Regions from separate parts of the Homo sapiens genome. Here region 2 is linked to region 1. The links come from fine-mapping of genetic effects on gene expression. Tissue or cell type: sigmoid colon. Region 1 holds a variant in brackets; the other region holds the start of a gene. All regions are shown on one strand. Distances are between the middles of the regions.

What was found. PIP is the estimated chance that this variant, and not a neighbour inherited with it, causes the effect.
Region 2: SOX30 starts here. The variant in region 1 is fine-mapped to the expression of SOX30 in sigmoid colon (GTEx, PIP above 0.99). The same link has a PIP of 0.9 or more in monocytes.

Annotation. Positions count from the first base shown.
Region 1 is chr5:157,673,894-157,676,651 of GRCh38, reverse strand. C5orf52 (chromosome 5 open reading frame 52) reads right to left here. Exons shown (of 3, transcript NM_001145132.2): 2 at 1,452-1,560. Among named protein-coding and RNA genes, the nearest start is that of C5orf52, 3.7 kb to the right of the region's middle. The variant C/T (reference allele first, on the strand shown) is at 1,501.
Region 2 is chr5:157,650,974-157,653,731 of GRCh38, reverse strand. SOX30 (SRY-box transcription factor 30) reads left to right here and starts at 1,294. Exons shown (of 5, transcript NM_178424.2): 1 at 1,294-2,620. The coding sequence starts at 1,654. LOC105377675 (a long non-coding RNA gene) reads right to left here and starts at 1,926. Exons shown (of 3, transcript XR_941127.3): 1 at 1,400-1,926. RefSeq lists an enhancer at 1,357-1,651.

The sequences.
Region 1 (2,758 bases):
TTACAAATGAGAAAGCAGAGTCTGGAGGAAGTGTAATTCACACAGGGTCACACAAAGCTGGCTTGCCCATCTATTTCCACTACACCACACCCATGGAAGTGTAGCAGAAAGAGAAATGCCCGGGTCCCTACTCTTCTTTTGGTGTTTGTGACCTTCAAGAGGATCTGGCACCATCTCTTAAGGATCTCCAATTGTTTTTAATGTTAGAATTTTGTGGGCCCATCCAGACTTGACCCTGGAACATGGAAGGAAGCTCAAAAGAGTCAAGAAGCAGGCAGCAGCTGTGCGTGGTGGCTCACTCCTGTAATCCCAGCACTTTGGGAGTCTGAGGTGGGTGGATCACCTGAGGTCAGGAGTTTGAGACCAGCCTGGCCAACATGGTGAAACCCCGTCTCTACTAATAAAACAAAAATTAGACGGGCGTAGTGGTGCATGCCTGTAATTCCAGCTACTTGGGAGGGTGAGGCAGGAGAATTGCTTAACCCGGGAGGTAGAGGTTGCAGTGAGTTGAGATAGCGCCACTGCACTCCAGCCTGGACAACAGGAATGAAATTCTGTCTCAAAAAAGAAAAGAAGGTGGCAGCAGCTCAACCCTGGGCACCCTGCTCTGCTTGAAAGAATGAGTGTGTTTCTGGAGTCCATCTTGTTCACTTGTCTCTTCCTAGCGCCCAACACAGTACCTGTCCCAAGCAGGCCCTAAGGACAGGTTTAATGAATCCATCAATCAGGGTCTATGGGAACAGTGGGGTGACAGCACTCAGGATTTCGAGTAAGCAGGTGAAACTCTACCTGTCCATAGCAAAAAGTGGGAGAAGAGCCTCAGCTCTCATCTGGAAAATGGGGATAATCCCCAAAGGAAAAAATTGACAAGATGGTGTTGAGGCCCATTCAAACTCTAGGACCCAAGACTTTGGTTTTCTGTTTTTTTGTTTGTTTGTTTTTTGAGATGGAGTCTTGCTCTGTTGCCACACACCTGGCTGCCACCACACCTGGCTAATTTTTGTATTTTTAGTAGAGACAGGATTTCACCATATTGGCCAGGCTGGTCTCGAATTCCTGACCTCAAGTGATCCTCCTGCCTCAGCCTCCCAAAGTGCTGGGATTAGAGGTATGAGCCACTGCGTGTGGCCTAGGACCCAAGACTTTGTATGGGAGAAAATAAGAATCCATTCATGGATTCCCTAAATAGAGAGATAATGTGCTTTCAGAAAAAAAGACCCAAGAGACATGGAGTCTTTCTCTCTGGCTCCCTTAGCCCAGGAACAGGTGCGACACCTTGCGCAAGTCAGTAACCCCGAGTATCAATTGCCTCCTCTGTAAAATGGGGCCTGCCTTAGAGCACCTTGATGACTCCCTATCACCTCTATGATATCCCAGCATATAGGGAGAATGAAATGAATATGGGTCAAGCCACTAACACCCTCTAATGCAAAAGCTTGTGGCTACTTTACCTCCATCTCATAGATTCGTTGTGTGATGCGGTTATCATGAATAATCACC[C/T]GAGATAAATGGCTCTTGGGTAAAGTTTTTTTCATCGCTGCTTCACTGGAATTCATTAAGCTGGAGCAGGGAGGGAAAGGTGGCACAGGTTACAGACGGTTGGGGCCTGGGCCAGAGCACATTTGATGGGGTCCTGAGGGAGTGGCTGAGGCTTCCCCGGGTTTCTTGGGACAAGTGCAGCTCTGTCATAATTTTCAAAAGAACAGGGGAGTAACCACAGTTTCTTGTTGTGGAAAAGGTATGCTAAAGGGGTATTTCATGGTTACCCAGAAGAAAAGCCATTCTGAGGATGTAAAATGGCCTAGTGCAGTCCTTAAGAGAAGGGTTATCAGGAACTCAGAACCATCCTCAGAAGCAGTCACCCTTTTTGTGTTTTTTGTTTTTTTGAGGCGGAGTTTCACTCTGTCTCCCAGGCTGGAGTGTGGTGGTGCAATCTTGGCTTACTGCAAACTCCACCTCCAGTTCAAGCAATTCTCCTGCCTCGGCCTCCTGAGTAGCTGGCACTACAGGCACTCGCCACCATGCCTGGCTAATTTTTGTACTTTTAGTAGAGACGGGGTTTCACCATGTTGGACAGGCTGGGTTCAAACTCCTGACCTCAAGAGATACACCCACCTCAGCCTCCCAAAGTGCTGGGATTACAGGCAAGTGCCACCACGCCCACCCAGCCAAAAGCAGTCATCTTGATGATCCTTCTTAAGGATGAAATGGTGAGAGGAGTCTTAGAGGAGAGGAGTAAAGTTGTAGGGTAGGATTCAGAAGGATGAATCTGGGAGGTGTTTAGCTTGGGGGGCACTTGCTCTAGAGCATATGCTTCAAGGGGATCTGGGAGGTGGGGGGTTGGGGGAGTATAAATCAGAGCAGGGAGAAATGCAAATGAAAAGCTTGGACAGGTGTTAGGCTGGTTAACAGGGAAATTCTGGAAGAAAGTTTGGGGAGTTTAGAAAAGTGAAGGAGGTATGGGGTGGCTAGGGGTTTTAGGAGACTCTGAAAGGTGAGAGGTGAAAGATGGGGTGGGGTGGGGTAGAATGGAGCCAAGTACTCCAGGTGAAAATACAACAATTTGGTCAAAATGAGAAAATGGTGAAAAGTGGATACACTTACAGGCACTGAGTTTTCACTTTTTGATAATTTGGTTACACCACGAAGTAGTCTTATGAACATATATCTTTAAATGGTTTTGTCCATTTAAAAATAATTGTTCAGGACCGGGCAAGTTGGCTCACGCCTGTAGTCCCAGCACTTTGGGAGGCTGAAG
Region 2 (2,758 bases), 23 kb after region 1:
AACTTGTCTTGATTGCAAAAATCATCTACGTCAAGATAAACTATAGTTTTTGGCCAGAATGTCATTTAGAAATGCAGCAAATGTTAATACAGGATTTCTTTTTGTTTTTCTTGGTGATGTTTAATGGAAATAAACACAATCCTACTAAAAGGAGAAACATAAACATGGAAAGGATTTGGAACAGTGTCTAGCATAAGAGTAAGCCCTTAACACAGGTAGTGATTATTACTATTTTATTATTACCCTATCACAGTCGCTATTCATTTATTTATTCAACAAGTATTTATTGAGTACTATATGCCAGGCTCAATGGTCTGCATTGTGGATTCAGTGATGGGCAAAACACAAACTGTTCTGCCTTCAAGGACTTTATAGTCTAAAGTGGGAGAGGCAGTGGAATCATCACATGAAAATTCTAATTACAAATTGTGGTAAGCAAACCAAGTGATAGAGGTATAAGTAGACCAAGATTTTATCTGATTTTCAGAGTCAGTAAAAGCTTCTCTGAAGAAGTCCCAGTTGAGCTGCAATATGAAAAATGTGCAGGAGGAATTAAGGAGACACAAAGGAAAGAGTAGCATGCTGAGCATGTTTAAACACCCTGCAGTAGAAAGAGAATGATGATGGGGCCAATGTGGCTGAAACCCAAAGACTCAATAACTATTTAATGGCAAAAACCACAATTACTTTTGCACCAATCTAATAGTAGCAGTAGTAGGAGGTTAGATCCCAAGCCACTGGGGGATTTTTAAGGCTTTGCTAAGAATTTTAGACTTTCATTACATTATCAGTGGGGAGCCATGGAAAGTTTAGGAAAAGTGTGACAACCTTAGATTTGCGTTTTCGAAAGATCACTGGCAGCTGGAGTGTAGTGGGGCAAGGGTGACAAGCAGGGAGACTATTTACAGGGTTACGGCAGTATCCCAGTGAAAGATGCTGGGAGCCTGGAACAGGATAATGGCAGGTAGAGACACAAAACAGTGGATGAATTTGGGATGTATAGTATTTTGGAAGTAGGGCCACAGGGCCTGGTGATTAATTGAAACTTTAGCACAATAATCACACAAAGTCGAAGATCCTCCCCAGCAACATTAGCTAATAGGTTATTGATAAGTTGCAAAATCTTCCCCATTCTCCCTTGGCAAAGATTCAAAAGCCCTGGTGGTACTCAGGGCCGACAGATTACTCAGGCCGCACAGAGCGCGTGCACAAGGCCGTCGCTCCCCTTGTGACGCAAGACTTCATTCCCTGGATGTCAGCGGCCTGGAAGCGCAACGTTTCCTGGGCAACGCCATTGTCGCAGCTCCGGGTGGGGGAGGGATGACTAAAGACAACGGCTGTAAGAGAACTCCACAAGAGAGTCAGAACGAAAATGTGCAACAAGTGCGGCGGCTCCTACCATGGCAGGTGATTCGAGGACTCAGCACGAGGCGAGAGTAGGGACCAGGAAGAGCCGGAAAACCCGCCTGTGATTGGCCGTCCACGGGTATCGGTCGTTGTGATTGGGTGAGGCCCAGACAGACAGCTGCGTTTTGAACCGCGTAGGGTTCTGGGTAGCAAAGGCCTTGCAAGGCTCTTAACCGAAAGGGGGAGGGGGAAGGTCGCCAACAAACGGCTGAGCTCACAATCCTGGCCGGGGCGTCCCCCTCCCCCATGGAGAGAGCCAGACCCGAGCCGCCGCCTCAGCCGCGCCCGTTGCGTCCCGCTCCGCCCCCGCTGCCGGTCGAGGGCACCTCCTTTTGGGCAGCAGCCATGGAGCCCCCTCCGTCGTCTCCCACACTGAGCGCGGCAGCCAGTGCGACCTTGGCCTCGTCGTGCGGGGAGGCAGTGGCGTCCGGCTTACAGCCCGCGGTGCGGCGGCTGCTGCAGGTGAAGCCAGAGCAGGTGTTGCTGCTACCACAGCCTCAGGCCCAGAACGAGGAAGCCGCTGCCTCGTCCGCGCAGGCGCGGCTGTTGCAGTTCAGGCCCGACCTGCGGCTCCTGCAGCCGCCGACAGCGTCAGACGGCGCCACCTCCAGGCCCGAGTTGCACCCGGTGCAGCCCCTGGCGCTGCATGTCAAGGCCAAGAAGCAGAAGCTGGGGCCCAGCCTGGATCAGTCAGTGGGGCCTCGAGGGGCCGTCGAAACCGGTCCTAGAGCCTCCAGGGTGGTCAAGTTGGAAGGCCCCGGGCCGGCCCTCGGCTACTTCCGAGGGGACGAGAAGGGCAAGCTGGAGGCGGAGGAGGTCATGAGAGACTCGATGCAAGGCGGGGCAGGCAAAAGCCCGGCAGCCATCCGAGAAGGTGTGATCAAAACGGAGGAACCCGAGAGACTCCTCGAGGACTGCAGGCTCGGCGCGGAGCCCGCGTCCAATGGCCTGGTTCATGGCAGCGCGGAGGTCATCTTGGCCCCAACGTCCGGTGCCTTTGGGCCGCACCAGCAAGACCTTAGGATCCCTTTGACGCTCCACACGGTCCCCCCTGGGGCCCGGATCCAGTTTCAGGGAGCTCCGCCTTCAGAGCTGATAAGATTGACCAAGGTCCCCCTGACACCAGTGCCTACTAAAATGCAGTCCCTACTGGAGCCTTCTGTAAAAATTGAAACCAAAGATGTCCCGCTCACCGTGTTGCCCTCAGATGCAGGTATTAGACAGCAGGGGAGTCGGGTTTTCAAAACTGCGTCTGTGTTGCCCATAGCTGTTTTGTCAGCAGTTCCCAAGTCTAAACTACAAAAGTAAAGTAATGGAACTGATTGTTTTCAGGGCAGAGTCTGCACAGGTA